Linked DNA regions of Homo sapiens. The protein of the gene in region 4 interacts with the protein of the main gene of each other region in a biochemical or structural test. Each region holds a gene or a part of one and is shown on either strand. Other genes may lie near its edges.

Evidence for each region.
Region 1: the proteins of GOPC (region 4) and KCNJ4 interact in a test that uses a peptide from one of them, tested with the Homo sapiens proteins (one large-scale study listed by IntAct).
Region 2: the proteins of GOPC (region 4) and CACNA1A interact in a test that uses a peptide from one of them, tested with the Homo sapiens proteins (one large-scale study listed by IntAct).
Region 3: the proteins of GOPC (region 4) and PDGFRB interact in a test that uses a peptide from one of them, tested with the Homo sapiens proteins (one large-scale study listed by IntAct).
Region 5: the proteins of GOPC (region 4) and SDC4 interact in a test that uses a peptide from one of them, tested with the Homo sapiens proteins (one large-scale study listed by IntAct).
Region 6: the proteins of GOPC (region 4) and OR10G3 interact in a test that uses a peptide from one of them, tested with the Homo sapiens proteins (one large-scale study listed by IntAct).
Region 7: the proteins of GOPC (region 4) and CTNNA2 interact in a test that uses a peptide from one of them, tested with the Homo sapiens proteins (one large-scale study listed by IntAct).

The regions. Positions count from the first base shown.
Region 1 is NC_000022.11:38,425,827-38,428,513, reverse strand, and holds the end of KCNJ4 (inward rectifier potassium channel 4), read left to right. Parts: intron 1-342; 5' UTR 343-381; coding exon 382-1,719; 3' UTR 1,720-2,187; downstream 2,188-2,687. UniProt on the Homo sapiens protein: Inward rectifier potassium channels are characterized by a greater tendency to allow potassium to flow into the cell rather than out of it.
Region 2 is NC_000019.10:13,293,480-13,296,979, forward strand, and holds part of CACNA1A (voltage-dependent P/Q-type calcium channel subunit alpha-1A), read right to left. Parts: intron 1-3,500.
Region 3 is NC_000005.10:150,117,846-150,121,345, reverse strand, and holds part of PDGFRB (platelet-derived growth factor receptor beta isoform 1 precursor), read left to right. Parts: intron 1-23; coding exon 24-142; intron 143-335; coding exon 336-458; intron 459-1,222; coding exon 1,223-1,334; intron 1,335-1,779; coding exon 1,780-1,879; intron 1,880-2,493; coding exon 2,494-2,599; intron 2,600-3,495; coding exon 3,496-3,500. UniProt on the Homo sapiens protein: Tyrosine-protein kinase that acts as a cell-surface receptor for homodimeric PDGFB and PDGFD and for heterodimers formed by PDGFA and PDGFB, and plays an essential role in the regulation of embryonic development, cell proliferation, survival, differentiation, chemotaxis and migration.
Region 4 is NC_000006.12:117,568,012-117,571,511, forward strand, and holds part of GOPC (Golgi-associated PDZ and coiled-coil motif-containing protein), read right to left. Parts: intron 2,945-3,500; coding exon 2,849-2,944; intron 1,848-2,848; exon of another isoform or gene 1,726-1,847; coding exon 1,561-1,725; intron 1-1,560.
Region 5 is NC_000020.11:45,331,425-45,334,924, forward strand, and holds part of SDC4 (syndecan-4 precursor), read right to left. Parts: intron 1,646-3,500; coding exon 1,599-1,645; intron 1-1,598. UniProt on the Homo sapiens protein: Cell surface proteoglycan which regulates exosome biogenesis in concert with SDCBP and PDCD6IP.
Region 6 is NC_000014.9:21,573,577-21,577,076, forward strand, and holds part of OR10G3 (olfactory receptor 10G3), read right to left. Parts: intron 1-3,500. UniProt on the Homo sapiens protein: Odorant receptor.
Region 7 is NC_000002.12:79,911,551-79,915,050, reverse strand, and holds part of CTNNA2 (catenin alpha-2), read right to left. Parts: intron 1-3,500. UniProt on the Homo sapiens protein: May function as a linker between cadherin adhesion receptors and the cytoskeleton to regulate cell-cell adhesion and differentiation in the nervous system. Required for proper regulation of cortical neuronal migration and neurite growth.

The DNA.
Region 1 (2,687 bases), on a different chromosome or scaffold from region 4:
ACAGGGAGGAACCAAGATGGGCATCAGGAAGCTTCCAGAACAGTGAGCATAGGAGGGCCGGAGGGGCAGTGTTGAGGGGCAGGGACTAGGACCTGGATCCTTGTGGCTTTAGCTTCCTGGTCTATGGACCCCAGTCTCTAAGCTGGGCCGGACTGGGTGGCACTGGCTCAGACCCTGTCATCAGAGCCACCTCTGCTGCCACCCTCCGCCTGCCGGGGCAGAGGAAGTCTTAGGTCCTGGTCCAGGCTCACCTGCTTCTGAGAGTCTTGGGGCTGAGTCTGAGTGGCCCCGAGGGAGCCCCTCGCTCCCCAGCATCTCACCTGTCCGGCTTCTCCTCCGCAGGCCCTGCGTCTTCCCAGGTGACCACGCCGGCTTCAGGACATGCACGGACACAGCCGCAACGGCCAGGCCCACGTGCCCCGGCGGAAGCGCCGCAACCGCTTCGTCAAGAAGAACGGCCAATGCAACGTGTACTTCGCCAACCTGAGCAACAAGTCGCAGCGCTACATGGCGGACATCTTCACCACCTGCGTGGACACGCGCTGGCGCTACATGCTCATGATCTTCTCCGCGGCCTTCCTTGTCTCCTGGCTCTTTTTCGGCCTCCTCTTCTGGTGTATCGCCTTCTTCCACGGTGACCTGGAGGCCAGCCCAGGGGTGCCTGCGGCGGGGGGCCCGGCGGCGGGTGGTGGCGGAGCAGCCCCGGTGGCCCCCAAGCCCTGCATCATGCACGTGAACGGCTTCCTGGGTGCCTTCCTGTTCTCGGTGGAGACGCAGACGACCATCGGCTATGGGTTCCGGTGCGTGACAGAGGAGTGCCCGCTGGCAGTCATCGCTGTGGTGGTCCAGTCCATCGTGGGCTGCGTCATCGACTCCTTCATGATTGGCACCATCATGGCCAAGATGGCGCGGCCCAAGAAGCGGGCGCAGACGTTGCTGTTCAGCCACCACGCGGTCATTTCGGTGCGCGACGGCAAGCTCTGCCTCATGTGGCGCGTGGGCAACCTGCGCAAGAGCCACATTGTGGAGGCCCACGTGCGGGCCCAGCTCATCAAGCCCTACATGACCCAGGAGGGCGAGTACCTGCCCCTGGACCAGCGGGACCTCAACGTGGGCTATGACATCGGCCTGGACCGCATCTTCCTGGTGTCGCCCATCATCATTGTCCACGAGATCGACGAGGACAGCCCGCTTTATGGCATGGGCAAGGAGGAGCTGGAGTCGGAGGACTTTGAGATCGTGGTCATCCTGGAGGGCATGGTGGAGGCCACGGCCATGACCACCCAGGCCCGCAGCTCCTACCTGGCCAGCGAGATCCTGTGGGGCCACCGCTTTGAGCCTGTGGTCTTCGAGGAGAAGAGCCACTACAAGGTGGACTACTCACGTTTTCACAAGACCTACGAGGTGGCCGGCACGCCCTGCTGCTCGGCCCGGGAGCTGCAGGAGAGTAAGATCACCGTGCTGCCCGCCCCACCGCCCCCTCCCAGTGCCTTCTGCTACGAGAACGAGCTGGCCCTTATGAGCCAGGAGGAAGAGGAGATGGAGGAGGAGGCAGCTGCGGCGGCCGCGGTGGCCGCAGGCCTGGGCCTGGAGGCGGGTTCCAAGGAGGAGGCGGGCATCATCCGGATGCTGGAGTTCGGCAGCCACCTGGACCTGGAGCGCATGCAGGCTTCCCTCCCGCTGGACAACATCTCCTACCGCAGGGAGTCTGCCATCTGACCTCCAGGCCCGGCCCTCACCACTGCCCACAAGAGCCTCTGCCGGGGGTGGGATGCCAGGACACCCCCTCCCACACTCAGGACAGAGCCAACCCTGGCTCCGTGGACCTTCTGGAGGAAGGTGGGGGTTTCAAAGACTGGGGGACCCCTTCCTCCTGACTCCAGCACCCAGGCCTGGGAAGAGCTCGGCCCCGATCAGCCTGAGTTCCGCCAGCGCCTACTTCTGGTGGCTCTAGGTCCCCGGATCCACCACCCTTCCCCCACTGACTCTTCAAGGACGTGCCCTCTTTGCTCTCAGAACCTTGGGGAAGGTGGCTGGACTGCTGGGCGGGGGACATCTCGGGGTTTCAGGGTGGGCAGGGGGTTAGTTTGGGGAGGGGGGGGTGCGTTTCTTTTGCATGACTGTGGCCTGTTGCTCATGACTTTCTTTTGTAAATATCTATAAATGGAGACAGATGGAGACACCAAATTCACTTTCTGCCGTTTTTACCTGCTGGACAGGGAGATGCAGTCCCTCTCTGTGCACCCCTCCCCACCCAGCCCATCAAGCCTAGCGCCTTCCCCTGCCCAGCTGGCTGGCCCCTTGAGGCCCTCAACGCCAGCCACCTTGGCCCTTGGATGGTGTTGGGTTTGGGTGCAGAGGAGGGACTCTGAGGGGTGGGATGAGGGACCATCCCTCCCTCCCTGCAGTCCCTCCAGCCCCGGGCCCAGCCCAGATTGACAACAGAGTTTGTAACCATATATATATATATATATATATATTTTTTTTTTATTTTTTATTATTATTTTTTTTTCTTGAGACGGAGTTTTGCTCTTGTTGCCCATGCTGGAGTGCAATGGAGCAATCTCGGCTCACTGCAACCTCCGCTTCCCAGGTTCGAGCGATTCTCCTGCCTCAGCCTCCTGAGTAGCTGAGATTACAGGCATGAGCCACCATACTCAGCTAAGTTTTGTATTTTTAGTAAAGAT
Region 2 (3,500 bases), on a different chromosome or scaffold from region 4:
CTGTCTCCCCGGCTGGAGTGCAGTGGTGCGATCTCGGCTCACTGCAAGCTCCGCCTCCCGGGTTTTACACCATTCTCCTACCTCAGCCTCCCGAGTAGCTGGGACTACAGGCGTGCACCACCTACGCCCGGCTAATTTTTTTTTTTTTTGGTATTTTTAGTAGAGATGGGGTTTCACCATATTAGCCAGGATGGTCTTGAACTCATGACCTTGTGATCCGCTCACCTCGGCCTCCCAAAGTGCTGGGATTACAGGCATGAGCCACCGCGCCCGGCTCAGTTAAATCTTATACCCAGAGAAGGAGGTAGCTACTATTCTTATCTTCATTTTATAGATGAGGAAATGGAGGCCCAGAGAGGAGTGAAATTCTGAAAGTCACACAGCCTGGAAGTGATAGGGCAGGAATGTGACTGCCTGCCCCAAAGTCCTTGCCTTTCACAACCAGGCTTTGCTGCTCTTGTAGTTTCCAATGTTTACTGTTGTCTTTCAAAAACTCTTCCTGGCATATTGTTAGGGAGAGACATTTTGTCCCTGTCACTCTGCCTCCTTCAATAACAGTAGATCTGTTAATAAGGCTGATAATAACAGTAATATTAGTAATAATAGCAAGAGTAATTAATAATCATTGGTCTTTCTTTTTTTTTTAGACATGAGGTCTTGCTCATCTCTAAAATGAGCAATGCTACTGCAATCCAACCTGGGCAACAGAGCAAGACCCTGCCTCAAAAAAAAAAAAAAAACAAACAAAACCCTAAATAAACCAACAAACTAAAGGCACAGATAATTATAAGCAAGATTTTTCACCTGTGTGAGGAGCACTAGAAAGTCATGAAGAGGAAAGGATAATTCTTTTCCATATGAGACTGTCTTGTACATGGTAGGGTATTTAGTATACTGGCCTCCCATTCTCTAAATGCTCAGGCTGGTCTCGAACTCCTGGGCTCAAGCAATCCTTTGCCTCAGCCTCCTGAGTAGCTGGGATTACAGGTGCATACCACTGTACCTGGCTTTTTTTTTTTTTTTTTTTTTTTGAGACAGAGTCTTGTTCTGTTGCCCAGGCTGGAGTGCAGTGGTGTGATCTCAGCTCACTGTAACCTCTGCCTCGCAGGACAATTCTTGTGCCTCAGCCTCCTGAGTAGCTGGGATTATAGGCGTCCACCACCACGCCTGGCTAATTTTTTGTATTTTTAGTAGAGACAGGGTTTTGCCATGTTGGCCAAGCTGGTTCTGAACCCCTGACCTCAGGTGATCCACCTGTCTCTGCCTCCCAAAGTGCTGGGATTACAGGCGTGAACCATCACACTGGCCTGTACCTGGCTCTTCATTGGTCTTTACTATACAGAGAGTGCTGTGGTAAACACTTTATTCCACCTAAACTCCCGTTTTGATCTCTCATTCCCCTGAGTGACTGACAGCCCCAGAGTCTCATCAATGCACCTTCAATTTCTTTGTCACTTTCTCGTCACTAGTCATGTCCTGCAAACTGGCCTCCTTCTGGTCCACCCCAGGGCCTTTGCACATGCTGTTGTTAGACTGAAACACTCTACTCCCTTCTCAGATTGCTCCTCTGGAAACCTGCCCTGAGACCCTGGGAGCAGTTTCTTGGTCGTATTTCTCAGAATGTCTCAGACCACTTCACTTGCAGTTGTGTGACTGAACTCACAGCATGAGCTTAGAATATAGTAGGCACTTAGTAAATACTAACTGAATGAATGCATAAACCCATAGGAGAAGATTGAAGCGAAAGAATGACCTAGAACAATGGTTTTCAGAAAACTGTTGTAGAACTACGTGGAAACCTAATAACATAATGATTGAGGGGCACTGCAGGCACTTAGAGAATGGTAGGCAGTTATACTAAATACCCTACCATGTACATGACAGTCCCATATGGGAAAGACTTATCTTTTCCTCTTCATGACTTTCTAATGTCCCTCAAAGAGGTGAAAAATCTTGCTTGTAATTACCTGTGCTTTTAGTTTGCTTGTTTGTTTGGGTTTTTTCTTTCTTTCTTTCTTTTTTTTTTTTTTGAGACAAGGACTTGTTCTGTTGCCCAGGTTGGAATGCAATGGCATAATCATAGCTCACTGTAATCTTGAACTCCTGGGCTCAAGCAATCCTCCTGCTTCAGCCTTCCAAGTAGCTAGAACTACAGGCACCTGCCGCCACACCTGGCTAATTAAAAAACTTCTTTTGTAGAGATCGAGGTCTCCTTATGTCGCCCAGGTTGGTCTCGAACTCCTGGCCTCAAGCGATTCTCCTTCCTCAGCCTCCCAATGCACTGGGATTACAGGTGGGAGCCACTGCACCTGATCCTGTGCTTTTAGTTTAAACCTAACTCTTTTACATAAGAACACAACATATTTTTTGTATGTTTTTAATATACATTGCATTTTCCTGCAATGCAACTATTAAATAAATGGAAGAAAGACTAGACTCTTTTGTATATGGAACTTTGCCAAGAGGTGTTCAACATTGTGGAACATCTTGACACTGCTGGCAACTCCCCTCATGTGGTTTGAATTGTCCACACAACCCAGAGTTAGCCATCATTTGTGCCTGTCACTTCATGGTGATTTTGTGTATGGTGTACATATCAGAATTACTTCACTATGTCCTCCAGAGTCTCATTACTCAAAATGTGGTCCCTGGACCAGTAGTATCAGCCTCATCTGGGAGCTCGTTGCAAATGCAGAATCTCAGGCTCCACTGAGTCCTTAGCCCTACGGAATTACAATTTGTGTTTTAACAAGATCCCTGGGGATTCACATACACATTAGATTTTGAGAAGTGCTGGCCTACCTCATATGTCATACAACAGGATCACTTAAACCCATCATTAAAAAAATCAATATTATGCCCTGATGGTAATATAAAAGAGGACTAAGAGCAGGTTAATTTGTAATAGGACAATGTCTACGATGTCTATTTTAATGGGTAAGTTGTTGAGTCCCTATATGCAGAATCACTATAGCATCTGCTAGAAAGTATTACAAAATGTCGTTATGAAAAAGAGGATGCTGGTTCTGAATGGATAAGTTGCTGGCCTGGAAGATGCCTCAAAAGCTTTCTAACATTTTTATTTATTTTTAAAAGGTGAGGTCTCACTATGTTGCGCAGGCTGGTCTTGAACTCCGGGGCTCAAGTGGATCCTCCCACCTTGGCCTCCCAAAGTGCTGGGACTACAGGCATGAGCCACCACATCCCGCTGCATCCAAAGCTTTGAAACTCTGCTCTCCCTTCAATTCTAACGGCCCAAAGTGCCTTTTCTTTTTCTTTATTTTTTATTTTATTTTTTGAGACAAAGCCTTGCTCTGTCGCCCAGGCTGAAGTGCAGTGGTGCAATCATAGCTCATCATAGCCTAGACATCCTGGGCTCCAGTGACCCTCCTGCCTCAGCCTCCCAAGTAGTTGGGACTGCAGGTGCATGCCACCACATCTGTTTAATTTTTTATATTTTATAGAGATGGGGTCTGCCTCTATTGCCCAGACTGGTCTCC
Region 3 (3,500 bases), on a different chromosome or scaffold from region 4:
GTGACCCTCTGCTTCTCCTCTAGCCCCTGAGAGGACCTGCCGAGCAACTTTGATCAACGAGTCTCCAGTGCTAAGCTACATGGACCTCGTGGGCTTCAGCTACCAGGTGGCCAATGGCATGGAGTTTCTGGCCTCCAAGAACGTACGTGTGGTGTTGGTGGGGCAGAGTGGGGGCTGTGGGGAGGTGGGTCACCCAGCCAGCCAGCATCCTCCAAGAGCACACCAGGGTGGCCTCTCGCACATGGGCAGTGTTGTATTTTCCCAAAGCCCTTGACATGAAGGGTCTTTCCCCACAATTGTCCCCAAGGCCTCAGCTCCCCTCTCCCCAAACCCAGTGCGTCCACAGAGACCTGGCGGCTAGGAACGTGCTCATCTGTGAAGGCAAGCTGGTCAAGATCTGTGACTTTGGCCTGGCTCGAGACATCATGCGGGACTCGAATTACATCTCCAAAGGCAGCGTGAGTACCTTCCCTGGCCCCTGCAGGGCAGTCACAGTGCCTGTGACCGCAGGAACAGATTCCCTCCTGACCAGTGTGGCTGCAGCTCATAGGAAATCTGTGTGGGGCTCCTTGTGGCCTGCCCTGACAGCAGTGATGGGCTGTGCCTGCCCAGCTATGTGTGCAGGGACAGGATGGGGAGCCGCCCAGGAGTGCATGGAGCAAGTATAGCGGCGGGGAGGGCTGGCTATAATGGGTCCAGGGTGGGGGAAGGGGGAACAGGCCGAATGTGTTGTTCCAGTGGTGGTGGGCAGAGGAAGAAGCCCAGGTGACAGGGCAAGAAAGATGAGCAGGTCACATGCAGTAGCAGGGATTGGTCTGGTTAAAACGTGATCATCCTGCCTGTCTCTCATCTCCCCACTTTTCCGCAAACCCCAGATGGAGGGACGCTAGGCCCAGAGATCAAAGGCAGCCAGGATAAGAGCTTGGGGGGTGCCTTGACAAGTCCCTGGCTCCCACACTTCACTACTCAGACCCTGGGGCTTTTCCCCAGGGACAGGGGCTGCCTTGTCCCCAGCTAGTGAGAAAGGAAACAGCCTCTGGTCCTCTGACCAGCCCTGGGATGGACATGGGAACTGTGCTGCGCAGAGACCAGGGCCCTCACAGGGAATGGGACGGAGAAGTGGTTGTGGGTGGGAGCTGCCAGATACCCTCCTCCCATCCCAGGTGCAGAGTGGGGCTGAGGTCCTTCCTTGCACTCAGCACCTGTCCTGACCTCCCTACAGACCTTTTTGCCTTTAAAGTGGATGGCTCCGGAGAGCATCTTCAACAGCCTCTACACCACCCTGAGCGACGTGTGGTCCTTCGGGATCCTGCTCTGGGAGATCTTCACCTTGGGTATGCTTGCTTCCTCCTCCAGCCCTCAGCATCCTGGCCTGGTGTCTACCTCGACCACTCATGCCTCTGGCCTGGTGGGGCTATGGGACGAGCCCTGATACAGGGATCCTGGTTCAGGTCCCAGCTCTGCTACCTTCTCCCTGCTGTGTGATGTTAGCAAATTCTTTGCCCTCTCTGGGTCTCTTTATCTCCCTGTCTGAGCATTGACAGGTTTGAACAGTGACATCAGAAAGCCTGCTTGGCTCTCACATTCTGGCTGTCTATCCTGGGGAGGGTTGTGGTCTCTGTTCAGAGCCCATGAAGGAGCCCACAGTTCCAAATGCCAGGGGCACTGCCCCCTTACCCATACCAGGGCCAGCATGGCTCTCCTTGTCCTGTAGAAGAGGGTGCCCTGCCACTTTTCCACCCCTGAGCCTGTGTATCTCTTGTCTCTGCTCCCCAACAGGTGGCACCCCTTACCCAGAGCTGCCCATGAACGAGCAGTTCTACAATGCCATCAAACGGGGTTACCGCATGGCCCAGCCTGCCCATGCCTCCGACGAGATGTGAGTGGAGTCTCATGCATTTGGGAGGATTTTGTGCTGCAAACAATAGATATCCAACTCTACTGGCTTAAACCAAAGATGAGAGATTTGTTAGCTCAGAGATCTAGAAAGCCTTGGTGTAACTGGATCCAGCCATTCAAAGGATGGCATCAGGAACCTCTTGTTCTAGCCCTGAGCTCTGCTTTGCTCTGTGTGGCCTCATTTTCAGGCCAGCATTGCCCAAATGGCTACCAGCAGTGCCAGTCTCATGTCCTACTGCTTGCTCCATAGTGCCAGCAAAAGTCCCAGAGCTGACCTTCAAGGGCTCAGGTGGGGTCACATGCCATCAAGAACCAACCGTGGAAGCTGCAGGGCTGAAAACTGTTGGCGAAGGTTGGCTCCTGTGCTCACCCAGGCGTAGTCAACCTGTGGAACCATGTGGAATGGGGGCTCTGCGAGGGCCTCCCAAGGGAATATCCAGAGACAGGACCTCTGGATACACCCAGCCACCACTTCCCTCCAGCTCCTTTCCATGGCTCACCTTGTTCTGAGAGGCAGCAGCCTCCTGCTCCCCCAGCCCTGCCTTGTCCCCTGAACCCTGGGCCAGAGGCCCTGACCCTTCTCCCTATCCCCAGCTATGAGATCATGCAGAAGTGCTGGGAAGAGAAGTTTGAGATTCGGCCCCCCTTCTCCCAGCTGGTGCTGCTTCTCGAGAGACTGTTGGGCGAAGGTTACAAAAAGGTATGTTGAGGCAGGGTAGGGGTGGAGCACGGAGAGCTCTGGTGCAGAAGTCAGACACCGAGTACAAGGCTCTGCGTGATGGGCTGGCATTTAGGGGACCACCCTTTGTCCTCTCTGGGCCTCAGTTTCCCTGCTGGTTCTAGGAGGGGATGGGCTGGCGCTGTGAGTTTATTTTAGCAGCAGAGAGCTTTATGAAATGGAATCCTACATGGAAGCTGATCGATTAGATGCAGGGAGGGGGCCTAGAGCACTGTCTGTCCTGCTGCCTCCCTCAGGCCTTTACCTCCATACCGAACCGTGGGGCTCCTTCAGAAGTGTGAATAACCCCAGGTTACATGACCATGAACCGCCTGACCACTTGGATCCTGTCACAGGATTGTCCAAGGCCCAAAGAGCCAGTAGGGCCCTGAAACCCTGCCCCGTCCAACAACACGGGTCCAAGTGAGGAGGAAATACACATGGCCTTTGACACAGAGGCAGCTCCTTCTTTGGGTCCATTTCTCACCCCCACTGCCCCCCGGGGATGGTCCCAGGGACCTGGGAGATGGAGTAAGGTCATCACCACTTCACAGCAAAGGAAACTGAGGCCCTGAAGAAGGACGCTGAGGCAGCATGAGAGCCTGTGCCTGTCTGCTCTGAAGTGGGGGAAGAGTTAGAGTCCTGGGTGCTGGTCTGATAACTGCCCCTCCCTGGGTGGTCCTGAGCTCACCATGCCTTGTAAGATTCTATGTGAGGTAGGAGGGCAGCTCAACCATGTGGCTTGGGCAAATCCCTTTCCCCTCTGAGCAGCGGGGGTCTTATTTATACAAAGGGGGATGGGCTCGGTTAGAAGATCCCTGAAGGCATTTCTGGCCTGACCATCCCTGTTTCTTTGGTTCTCCCTGCCCCGGGAGCAGAAGTA
Region 4 (3,500 bases):
AAAACCCATCTCTACAAAAAAAAAAAAAAAAAAAAAAATTAGCTGGCCATGGTGGCAGGCATCTGTAGTCTTAGCTACTCAGGGGGCTGAGGTCGGAGGATCTGTTTGAGCCTGGGAGGTTGAGGCTGCAGTGGTCCGTAATTGTGCCACTGCACTCCAGCCTGGGTGACAAAGTGAGATCCTGGCTCCAAAAAAGAAAAAAATGTTACAGATCGTTTTATGTTAAAAGAAAAATTTCCAAGCTATAATTGTCATTTAATAAGAGACTCCAACCACTACATATAAGTGTGGTGTTGGCAATTCTGAAAACTATGGCTTGCCTTTGCTCAAAAGAAAACACGGCATTTTTGACTGCTACTCACTAAGTTAGTCTCTTTGGTGCTCTTCTTTCCCAGCAGTTTAAGGTTATACCTCAGAATTTTAATATGTGCTTAGTTAGCATTTCCTTAAAACTTATGGCTGCCCATTGATAGCTCCTTCACCAGTTATCCCACTCTTTTGCTACTGGATGACAGTCAAGATGGATTGATAAAACACTAACTTAAGAGAATAGCGTAGCATTCTTAGATCTCTCTTGTCAGCTAATGCTTTAAAAATACCATTTTGCAGAAAGAGACAGATGATGCAGTGGTCTTCAGCAAAGTTTTAGATGACAGAATTAGATCTGTGAGTAGCTGTCATGGAGACACAGATTTCAGGCTTAATATGAGAAAAAGCTTTCTAAAAATCAGTACTGTATTACAATGGAATGGACTGGTTGATATCAGCAAGTCTTCCCTGTAATGTAATTATTGAAGTAGTGATGTTGCAAAGATTTATGCATCATATAGAATTGAACCAATGAACAATATTCACTTTCAACTCTGAGATGCAATTCTACAGAGGCATACCACACTGATAATCCAAGAAACATCTCAATGTACTACCAATGCCTCTAATTCCCTCAACTCTATTCTTGAAAGAAATAAAATAAAACAACATTTTAAGTACAACTGTATGACAAATATGACTCCTGAGTATGAATCTCAATTCTATAATTTATTTGCTTGGCAACTTTGAGTAAATCCTTTCATCGCTAAGAACTTTAGTTTACTCATTTTAAGAGAGTTGGGCTAGATAGTTTCTATGTGTGATTTCAATTTTAATATTCCATGACTAAAATCAATCTACTTCTAGCACTGTCTTTTCTGTAATACCTTATATATAGTGTTCTAGGCATTAAGGATGTTGTTTTTTCAGTCTCAGGTCCTGTTCTGAGTACTTTATATGTATTAACATACTTAATCCTCACAGCTTTCTTTCAATCCCTCCCACACAGGTGAGGACACTGAGGGACAGAGGACTTAAGTAACTTGCTCAAAGTTATGAAGTAAACAAAATGGAATGGTCCATTTTCAGTAAATCTGACTGAATGTCAGCTATAAAAGCATTAAATCAAAGGAAACAAGAACTATGTGTAAACACTTTACTACTTTAGAAACTTCGTAGGGAAGTATACAGTGTTCAATAGATTCATAACCAATTGATAGATCCAGTTCTAATTACATGAAGGGAATTTACCTGCTGAGAAAGAATAGTTACAGCTTCTTTATGCTTTGTGTCCCTTAGGTTAACTCCGTTGACTGCCAAAATAGCATCCCCAACGTGCAGCCCTCCGCATCTATCAGCAGGTTGCCCCGGATGGATCTCAGAGATGAGGATTGGAACACCATGTTCTTTCCCACCCTAACAACAACAAAGGGCAGTAAATTAAAGTACTCTTTGTAAGGTACAGTTACCGATTAATCTAGAGATAAAATATTTTCTTAAAAATATATTTCATTAAACACCTATGCTGTCTCTATAAATGCTGGGTAAAATTTTATTTGCTACTTAAGTAATGGTAAAAATTATCAGAGTATTGAACAGAAATTGGCTAAATTCTTAAATTAAAAAAAACTTATGTGTTAGTACTCCATAGCACCATTACATTTTATCAAGTCTAAATCACTACGAATGACAAGACCAATTATTTTAGGTGCCACAAAAATAATTTTAAGATTATAAGATAAATTTCAATTTCAGAGAAGTTAAAATATGAAAATATATGCAATGTAGAATTGAAAAAATGCAGTATTTGGTACCTATCACTCTCTAGCTTATATCATTGTTGCGTGTGTGTAGGGGTGTGTGTGTGTGTCTTATTTGTCCTGCTAAAATGTATGCTCTTTGAAGGCAGCACATAAAAAAAAAAAAGGTAAGTATTCAAGAAATATAGATTAGATGAGCTTTTTATTATAAGAAACATTTCTACATTAAGCAATACTAAAAAAACAAATGATCTTGCTCAGTGCCTAAGTATTACCAAATGAAAATTAAAGCCACCTTATTCATTAAAGCACTGAGATGACAACAAAATGACTCCTAAAGGCATCGAATTTAAAAAAAAGAATATATAACATTTGGACCCAAGAGCCAGTGAAATCTGACAGCTAATAAATGAGGCAAGAGAAAGATACACGTACTCCGAGAGAGAACAATACAATCTGAAGCCATTTAACATAGAAGAAAACAGCCACGTCTATTCCCAAGGGCTCCTAGAGGCATCACAGTATATGGCACAGAACTATTAAGTGAATCATAATAAAAATGTTAAACTATGCTTACTAAAGGTACACTTAATAGTTGCTAGGAATATTTATTTCTTAAAAAAATATTTACACAAAAGCAAACATTTATCCCCATGGGGATAAATTTTAGTTATTTAAAAAATATATCCAGAATATTCTGTTCCCCAGTGATGTCCAACAAAGGAGCATGATTATACTAGATAACTGTAGAAAATGATACTGGAAGTACTACTTCTTACTGTAATTGAAATGCCAAGGCCTTCATGATCTTCCTTAAGGAGGAGAACTTTTCTAATTGGACCAACACCTTGGCTTTTCTTTAGGGAATCTTGATCCTTATTGGGAGGAAAAAAGAAGAAAAAGTAGTATCATTTAAATAGCATACCAAATAGAGTAAACTCATACTATATAACTTGCTTTTAGAAATCTGTATTAACTTCCTGGAATGGATAAACAGTATAGGGTTAAGAAAGTAACAGATAAAATGGAAAAATGAAAATAGCTATTCTGTTGATGCAAAATTTATAGATGATATTCTCACCCTTTTGCCAATAATGTTTAAAATATTGATACATCTCTTTTTAAATTGTAGGGCATTATAAAAGAAATGATTTCCAGGAATTAATTGAGGAACAAATATCCTCAAAAAATAAAAGTGTCTATCTTCACTGGATATCTTTAAGATATACATTCATTTTAGCTGAGTTGTAGAGTTGAAAAACAAATTTCCAATTGGACCATTAATTACTTATACATTCCTTGGTGCTCTGGAGTCTACCTCTTAAATAAAGGGCCTTGATCCACTAATAATCTTTTCTCTGGTACCCTTACTCTTTCTGTCTCTACTAAGCTGTTTTCCTACTCAGCAGATAAATGAATCACAAGCCTCTT
Region 5 (3,500 bases), on a different chromosome or scaffold from region 4:
ATGTCAGGTGTTTGAACCAGAGTGCCTACATCTTGAATAGGGGCTGGGTAAAATAAGGCTGAGACCTGCTGGGCCGCATTCCCAGTAAGTTAAGCATCCTACGTAACAGAATGAGATAGGAGGTCTGCACAAGATACAGGTCATAAAGACCTTGCTGATAAAACAGGTTGCAATAAAGAAGCTTGCCAAAAACCACCAAAAACAGGATGGCAATGAAACTGTTGGTCTCACTGCTCATTATATGCTAATTATACTACATTAGCATGCTAAGAGACACTCCCATCAGTGCCATGGCAATTTACAAATGCCCTGGCAAAGTCAGGAAGTTACTCTATATGGTCTAAAAAGGGGAGGAGCCCCTAGTTCTGGGAATTGCCCACCCCTTTGTTGGAAAACTCATGAATAATCTACCCCTTGCTTAACATATAATCAAGAAATAACCATAAAAATGGGCAACCAGCAGCCAATGCCACTGCTCTACCTATGGAGTAGCCATTCTTTTATTCCTTTACTTTCTTAATAAACTTGTTATTGCTTTGCAAAAATAAAAAAGATGTTTGCTGCAGTGTTATAATTTTAAAATGTTAACAAATTATAAGCCATTTTTCCGTCAATAAAGGGAATCAGGTAAACTATTACGCAGCCTATAAAAATGACAAGAGCATTAAATTATGCAGGGAAATACTCATGACCAGTCTAAGTGAAAAACGCAGTTCATAGAATTATATATATATACTTTTTTTTTTTTTTTTTGAGAGGGAGTCTCTGTCGCCCAGGCTGGGGTGCAATGGTGCAATCTCTGCCCACTGCAATCTCTGCCTCTCAGGTTCAAGCGATCCTCCTACCTCAGCCTCCCAATCAAGTAGCTGGGACTACAGGCGCACGCCACTGTGCCAGGCTAATTTTTTGTATTTTTAGTAGAGATAGGGTTTCACCATGTTGGCCAGGCTGGTCTCGAACTCCTGACCTCAGGTGATCTGCCCGTCTTAGCCTCCCAAAGTGCTGGGATTACAGGCATTAGCCACTGTGCCCGGCCTATATATATACTTTTCTATCAATGCTAGGAAATAGCTATAAATGTAGAGAAAAGGAGTTGGTGTTGACGGTGACTATCCCTGCAGGGAGGATGGCCTACCAGCAACCTACAAAATGAGCCTGGGGCCAGATTTGTTTGTTTGTTTGTTTGTTTTAACACAGTCTGGCTCTGTCACCCAGGCTGGAGTGCACTGGCACAATCTTGGCTCACTGCAACCTCTGCCTCCTGGACTTAAGCCATTCTCCCACCTCAGCCTCTCAAGTAGCTGGGACTACAGGCACATGCCACCACACCTGGCTAATTTTTGTATTTTATGTAGAGACAGGTTTCATCGTGTTGCCCAGGCTGGTCTTGAACTCCTGACCTCAAGCCTCCCAAAGTGCTGGGATTACAGGCCTGAGCCACCATGCCCACCCCAGGGCCAGATTTTTAAAAAGCCTTCCCGCATAGTGGGGTAAGACCCCTCACTTATTCTGCCTATGGGGGCTGTATTTTCTGCCTCTCCCAATAGGTCTGCTATAGAGGAGCAAAGTGGAAGAGGCAGAAGCATGTAGCTACTTACCAAGGGATGGACAACTTCAGGGCCGATCATGGAGTCTTCCAAGTCATCTGTAAGGTCAGAATAGCTGTGTGAGTGAGGTCCATTACCCCAGGAAAATGACCCCTTCAGCCAGGACTGGTGGGAGCTCCACCTTACAACCAGCTTCCAAATGCTCAATGTCCAGCAAGCGAGCTTCCCCACCCCTACTTCAGTCATCTCATCTGTAAAATGGGGCTCCTCAGACCCACCCCCTGGCTCTTTCACAGGAATGTGTGAGCTGGCAGCTGGGCAGAGGCTTCATCAGCTCTAAACCCTTGCTCTGCAAAGTGTGGATCCAAAAACCAATAGCAACACCTGAGAGCTGGTTAGAAATGTAGAATTTCAAGGCCAGGCGCGGTGGCTCACGCCTGTAATCCCAGCATTTTGGGAGGCCAAGGCGGGCAGATCACTTGAGGTCAGGAGATCGAGACCAGCCTGGCCAACATAGTGAAACCCCGTCTCTGCTGAAAATACAAAAATTATCCACGGGTGATGGCACGCGCCTGTAATCCCAGCTACTTGGGAGGCTGAGGCAGGAGAATCACTTGAACCCGGTTGGCAGAGGTTGCAGTGGGCCAAGATGGTACCACCGCACTCCAGCCTGGGCGACAGAACAAGACTCCGTCTCAAAAAAATAAATAAATAAATTCCCTCCATACGTATTCCTAAATACATTTTTCCCAATAATGGGCTCGTAACAATATATCATTAACATCTTTCCATTACAATGCTTAAAGAGTTACATTATTATTTTAATTACTTCTATTCAATGAATTTCATTTATTTTCAATAGTCTCTTACTGTTGAATGTTTAAAATGTTCTTATCTAAAAATATTGTCATGATCAGAAAACATTAAAGCTAATATTTCACTTATTTAAAAAGAGTAAAAATAATTCATTGGTTAAAAAAAAAAGAAGAAGAAATGTAGAATTTCAGGGCTGACTGAATCAAAATCTACTTTTTTTTTTTTGAGACAGAGTCTCTCTCTGTCGCCTGGGCTGGAGTACCGTGGTGCCATCTCGGCTCACTGCAACCTCTGCCTCCTGGGTTCAAGCGATTCTCCTGCCTCAGCCCCCCGAGTAGCTGGGACTACAGGGGTGCACCATGACACCCAGCTGATTTTTGTATTTTTAGTAGAGACGGGGTTTCACCATGTTGGTTGGCCAGGATGGTCTCGATCTCTTGACCTTGTGATCCGCCTGCCTTGGCCTCCCACAGTGCTTCAATTACAGGTGTAAGCCACCGCGCCCGGCCAAAATCTACATTTTAACAAGATCCCCAGGGAATTAACTTTTGAGAAAGAAAACTCTAACTGCAATATTAAAACATTTCCTGGGCGACTATGTGAGATGATGGATATATTACTTAACTCCACTGTAGTAACATTTTTACTATCTATATGTATCCCATAATATCATGTTGTATGCACATAATGAAATTTATTTTTTTATTTTTATTTTTTTTCAAGACAGAGTCTTGCTCTGTCACCAGGCTGGAGTGCAATGGCGTGATCTCAGCTCACTGCAACCTCTGCCTCCCGGGTTCAAGCAATTCTCCTGCCTCAGCCTCCCAAGTAGCTGGGATTACAGGCACTCGACACCACACCTGGCTAATTTTTGTATTTTTAGTAGAGACGGGGTTTCACCATGTTGGCCAGGCTGGTCTCAAACTCCTGACCTCGTGATCTGCCTGCCTTGGCCTCCCAAAGTGCTGGGATTACAGGCATGAGCCACCGTGCCCGGCCATAAAATTTATTTTTTTTTTAAACCAAACACACACGTACTGAGTGCTTGGTAGGTGCCAAAAGCTTTAAGTCAGTTCAGTCCCCACAACACTGATGTACTATCTTTATTATTCCCATTTTACAGATTAGAAAACTGAA
Region 6 (3,500 bases), on a different chromosome or scaffold from region 4:
CGGCAGAATTGCTTGAACCCAGGAGGTGGAGGTTGTAGTGAGCTGAGATTGTGCCACTGCACTCCAGCCTGGGTGACAGAGCAAGACTCTGTCTCAAAAAAAAAAAAGTACGAAGTTTCAGTTAGACAGGAAAAGTGAGTTTTCAGGACCTATTGAACAGCATGGTGACCATAGTTAATAATAATATATATTTCAGATTGCTAAAAGAGCTTATTTTAAGTGTTCTTACTACAAAAAAAGACAAGTATGTGAGGCAATGGATATGTTAGTTTGATACAATCATTCTACAATGTATATGCATCTATCAAAACATCACATTTTTAATTTAACTATTATTTATTGATTAAAAATAAAAGTTTAAATAAAACAGGCTTGATGAAAATTTTTACTGAAAAATACTCATGACTTGAGGTAGGATGTCAAAAAAATTGAAATTGATTGATTTGGCTGGGCGCGGTGGCTGACGCCTGTAATCCCAGCACTTTGGGAGGCTGAGGCAGGCGGATCACGAGGTCAGGAGATGGAGACCATCCTGGCTAACACGGTGAAACCCCGTCTCTACTAAAAATACAAAAAATTAGTCGGGCGTGATGGTGGGCACCTGTAGTCCCAGCTACTGGGGAGGCTGAGGCAGGAGAATGGCATGTACCGGGGAGGCGGAGCTTCCAGTGAGCGGAGATTGAGCCACTGTACTCCAGCCTGGGCCACAGAGCAAGACTCCATCTCAAAAAAAAAAAAAAAAAAAAAAGAAATTGATTGATTTTTTTTTCTCTGGACTGATTTCCATCCACTCAGAAGGAGGAGAGTAAGATTAACAGGGAAATGTCAGGAGCTTTCTGATTAATGATTCTCTCTACCTTCACTCCTGTGCAGGGCAGCATTCTGCCTTGCTTGGGTCAGGGGACTGTGGAGAGCAGGGAACTGGCAACTCTGGTGAAGAAGTAAGTCATCGTAGACAGATGGTCCTGCTGCTGGCTGAGAGCAACAAATGTAAACATTATAATGGATCTCAATCGTTAGGTTGCCATCATAATGGATCTGGTCATTAGTTCACTTCTTGGTTCTGAGCGAGTCTCAAAGCTCCTCTGGGACTGGGTGTGGTGGCTTATGCCTGTAATCCCAGCACTTTGGAAGGCTGAGGCAGAAGGATTGCTTAAGCCCAGGAGTTTGAGACAAACCTGGGCAACATAGCAAGACCCTATTTCTATAAAAAAAATAAAAAAAATTTACTGGGCGTATTGGCACGCACCTGTGTTCCCAGCTACTTGGGAGGCTGAGATGGGAGGATTTCTTGAGCCCAGAAGGTCAAGGTGAACCACTGCCCTCCAGCCTGGGTGATAGAGTGAGAGACCCTGTCTTAAAACAAAAACACAAACAACATACAAAAAAGCCAACTCCTCTGGGTTTCAATTTCTTCACTGGGGCTATGAGGATGCGGAATGAGACTGTGGATCCAATTTTGACAAATAGTGAAAAACAAGGGATAGTTACATTCAAGTCTTTTTTGTTTTATTTTGTTTTTTGAGACAGAGTCTTGCTCTGTCGCCCAGGCTGGAGTGCAGTGGTGCGATCTCGGCTCACTGCAACATCCGCCTCCCGGGTTCTCGCCATTCTCCCGCCTCAGCCTCCTAAGTAGCTGGGACTACAGGAGCCCGCCACCACACCCAGCTAATTTTTTGTATTTTTAGTAGAGACAGGGTTTCACCGTGTTAGCCAGGATGGTCTCGATCTCCTGACCTCATGATCTGCCCGCCTCGGCCTCCCAAAGTGCTGGGATTACAGGCGTGAGCCACTGTGCCTGGCCTCAAGTCTTTTTTTTTTTGAGATGGAGTCTTGCTCTGTCACCCAGGCTGGAGGGCAGTGGCACGATCTCAGCTCACTGCAACCTCTGCCTCCTGGGTTCAAGCAATTCTCCTGCCTTAGCCTCCTGAGTAGCTGGGATTACAGGCATGCGCCACCATGCCCGGCTAATTTTTGTATTTGTAGTAGAGATGGGGTTTCACCATGTTGGCCAAGCTGGTCTCGAACCCCTGACCTCATGATCTGCTCGCCTCGGCCTCCCAAAGTACTGGGATTACAGGCGTGGGCCACTGCCCTCGGCTCAATAGTCTTTACATTAAACACTTAGCTTTAAAACTGCTGTACCCAAGCTCTTTCAGAGCTTAGCTCTCATCATTTAACCATCTCTGTTATGAAACTTAAAAAAAAGGCAGTAAATCCCGCCACCCCATGCCATTTTATCCTCTTTCAAGTCAATAAAATGCAGTTTATAAATTCTTCAGTTTTAAACATTATAGCCACAGGATCACAGCGATGGCTGAACTTCAAAAAGCTGACCGCAATCCTCTTCCAGATGCCAGAGCTACAGATGCTGGCCTCCTCCCCGCGTTCCTTGACTTCAGAAAGTACAGAGGCTCAAGTTCCCACACAGGTTCCTTGGGAAATTCATGGCAGTGCACAATGGTAGCCCTGGGCTGAAGGAGCTCAGGTGGCTGCTCTGGTCTGTGTGTCGTGTCATGGGATGCTATAGTTTTCTGGGGTCACTGAGGTCTGTTGTTAAAGTGTCCAGATTTAGAAGCCTGATTTGGTTAGGTCTCTCTGGGGGAATCAGGCTGAGGGAAATCAGTTCACACTATTCAAGTACCTGAGAGAATGACTTAAAAACTAAACAAATAATTTATTACTTTACAGTGGGAGATCTTGCTCCCATGTCTGAAATGATGTGTCTACTGCCCAGGGCACCCACGTATTAATACTTCATGGTCCCTGGAAATGAAATTAGGAATCAAATGTGTAATTCTGAGTTTTGAATCACAGCAAGGGGAATTTCATGAAGCACACTTAAGTTAGGTCACAGTGAACTACACCTGGTAAATCACACAGCATCTGTATCTAAGGGAATACTTCAATTTTCCCTTCAGATACAGTTATCTTTTTCCCTTGGGCAGTAACGAAGATACATCAACAAAGTTTTATTCTAATTATTTTCTCCCTGAATTTCTATCTTTTTAGATTGCCTTTGTTATTTCCATTGGCTCTTTTTCAACATTTTTCTAACTTTTTAGAGTTCCCTAATTATTTTTCCCTGATTTATTTTTCATACTGTTTTCTTGTTTGCTTTGGAGAATATTCTAAGATTTACTCCCTAAAAAGTGTTATTTCTTTTGCAAAATTTTCCATTGATAGGGAATGACAGTCCACCCATAGCATGATGATTCTTGTTTTATTCAACCAGAGAATAGAATTTTCTAACTTTGTCCTTAGATTTCAGAACCATCTTAAAGGGAGGAATGAGAGGAAAGAGTGCAGTTTTATTTGTAATACCGAGTATCTTTATTGGGTGTGATTTCATCCCAGTTACCTCTTTTTGTTTTCTTCTTTTTGTTTCTCTAACTTTTTGCTCCTCAGTAAGTTATAAATATTAATAGAAAAACTTCCCTTTACCTCTGATCTGTTAAGACCTTTCTCCCTGTGTCACTGCCATTATCATAAACCTCCAA
Region 7 (3,500 bases), on a different chromosome or scaffold from region 4:
TGTATAGGCCATAAAACCGGGCTGGAAATAACCTTTTTAGATCCTATTTTAGTCCTCAAATCCTCACAAGTGGGCTCCTTCAGGAACCCACTTTATGTTAAATTCTACTCTCTAACAAAGGCTATGACAATGCTTCAAACACTTGTAATATGTATATATGTTCCCATATCAATATGTCTTCATGTGCTTTTAATACCTTCTATATATTAATGGTTTATAAATTGTTAACCCCAGGGATCCACTTAGATGCTTCAAGAGGCTTGAAAAAAAGTTGGATCCAAAATTTAAAAAAATATACAATTGTAATTATTTTTAAAAATACAATTAAAAATGTCTCACCATATTTTACAGCAGAGAACAGCAGCATTACTTTATGCCACCAGGATCTCTGCCATCATTTGAAAATAGTTTAACTGCATGATTGTTTAAGAAAACTGTAGCTCTAAATTAGTCTTAAAAAAAATTCGAGCTACACAGAGAGTTTATGCATATAAAATTGAAACAGGTTGTACAGCAGCACAAGACACAACAAGGACCAGGCACATCTGCTCATTGCATATTCTCATCATAGGCCTAACCATGAATTGTGCATAAAGAAGTAACAGTTTAATGAATTTCCTTATTGTTCTTCATTTACAGTTTTAGTACCTAGAATAAGTAGTAATTTTTCTCCTTACAGTTCTGCATTACAGTTTAATACTTAGAATAAGTATTAAATTTTTCTAGTCTTTTATAAGAATGTGAACCATACTTAGACATTTTTGGTGATACAACGTTGAAACAAAATTTTTCTACTTAACTCCCCTTTCAAATGCAATCTGTCTAGCAGAGTGTCCAGGCATTGCCAAGTAAGCTACTTTCTTTTTTTTTTTTTTTTTTTTTTTGAGACGGAGTCTCGCTCTGTCGCCCAGGCTGGAGTGCAGTGGCGGGATCTCGGCTCACTGCAAGCTCCGCCTCCCGGGTTCACGCCATTCTCCTGCCTCAGCCTCCCGAGTAGCTGGGACCACAGGCGCCCGCCACTACGCCCGGCTAATTTTTTGTATTTTTAGTAGAGACGGGGTTTCACCGTTTTAGCCGGGATGGTCTCGATCTCCTGACCTCGTGATCCGCCCGCCTCGGCCTCCCAAAGTGCTGGGATTACAGGCGTGAGCCACCGTGCCCGGCCCAAGTAAGCTACTTTCAACACCCAAGTAAATCAGAATTTCCTGTGCAACCAAAACCAAATGAAGATATCATATGAGCTGCAATTGATACAACTGCAACTGTCATTCAAAATGCAAATCATCCAAAATGCAAATATTGATTTTATGTTCATAAAACAGACACATTCTTCTTACTAGTTAATTTATAAGCAAATTTTATTTATAGTCAGTATTTGAATACTTTATGCCACTTCTATTGCTATCCCCTGGCCCAAGAGACCATCCTCTCATGAATATTACGGGACGCAGGGCCTCCTCACCTGTCCTCCTGCTTTTACGCCTTTTGCCTTTGTGGCCTGTTCTCAGCACCTGAATCATGGCATTTTTCACTCACTACTGTGCAATGGCCTCTCATTCCATTAGAATGAAAGTCAAATTCTGTATAATGGTTCACCACACCCTGCACCGACTGATGCCTCAGCACCATACAGACGCCATCTCCTGCTACCCCTCTACTCACAATAGCTGCTGTGACTCCCATGGTGCTTCAAACGGGTGGGTGCACCAGGCACCCATTCACAGCAAGGCCCTTGACCTTGTCATCCCTTCCTCCTCAAGGCCTCTTTGCTTCCTCACTTCTGAGAAGTCTTTGATCTAATGTCATCCTTTCAACGCACCTTCCTAGGCCATTCTTAACTTCAGTACTACCCAGCGTCCTCTAACTCCCATGTTTTAGACTTCCTCTTTGCATATATCACTATCTGAAGTGACTCTTGCTCATATCACTTAGTATTTACTGTCTGTCTCCTCCCACAACAGTGTAAGCTGCATGAGAGCAAGCAGAGAATTTTACCTGTTCTGGTACTTTCTGTATCCCCAGAAGCCTAGAGCAATGCCTGGCACAAATGGCCAGCAGACAATACACATTTGTTGAATGAATAAAATATTCTAAATTTGCATTCCTCACAATATTCTTATTAATAAAACCCATAAAATGTTATGTTTATACTGCCACCAAAGAAAGCTGCATAAAATTATAAGTTCCCAAGGAAGGTTTATGTGTTCACTATAATTTGGAACTATTTAAAGTACTCAGCATAATACTTCAACCACCACACTGACGGCACTCATCCCAATTAACATCTATAGGCCGCGCATCCTTTTAAGTCTCTCTCTACCCATTAGTCTTCACATATGTACAATAATAATAGTTTACTTAAAGGGGGATTATTTTTTAAGAATCTTTTCACTTTGGATTATATCTTCAACTTGATAAAGCAACTTAAGTCTAGCCAAGGCTTTCCTAAAAGAATTCCAACCATCCTTTCTACCACCGCCATGATCTGTGATGATTTTCACCCCATGCCTCTGTTCACCCAGCCTTTTTTCAAATATCACCACTTCTTTTAACTGCACAATTCTGTTGACATCTTCAAGTTGCACACCCACGTTCATTAAGTAGAATACACATTTGTGGAAATATCTAACATGTGACTGCTATCCTATTGAGCTCAATGGAAGCTACGTGGCTAAGTCATAGCCCATGCTCCATGAAGACCCTTTTTCTATCAGGTGTGATACACAGCTTCTCTCCACAACCTCTGTCTCCCTCTGTGTCATACAATTTGGCATGTATACAATTTTAGAACAGCTTCAGCCACAAGCAAGCATTGTGTAAGTGGAATGTTCATCTGGGACTGATGAGGAGATTTTTAGAAAACAGAAATGTCAGTTATGCTGATTTTTAAATATTTTCAGTTTAACAACTTGTTTATCCTAATGGTACTGCCTAGCACATTAGGATGAAAACTTGCAAGGTGATCATTTGATAATACCTTTATTCTCAGAGCTTATGAAATTGAAAGAGAAAGATAACAGCCCAGGAACGATAGACTGATTTACTGTTTGCTGTTAACTACAATAGACTTTTCAGTCAGGGCATGGATGTGTATGTGTTTTTGTATTCATACATGCTATATCAAAATAAATACAAATTGACTGTGCAGCAGGAGAAATGAGTGCACTGGACAGGAATTATGAAGGTGATCTGGCTGCATCCAATTCTACCTTGAAATCACCAAACAAGTGTGAAGTCCAACTAAATGTTATACAGTTTACATAAATGTCAAGTAGGAGGTGTTTTATTTCAGGCTTTGATCATGATGGTTCAATGTGAATAGAACTTGTGCATTTTGAAATTTAAGCACTATACCCATTGATGTATTGTCTGTAACCATGTCAAAATAGAAACTAAGATTTCAATAAAGCACAAAACATTCCTGCATCACGAGGCTGCGAACAGAAAACAAAAAGTGCCTGGAGTCAATAAAATACAAAAATCCATCAGCTCTGCTGATC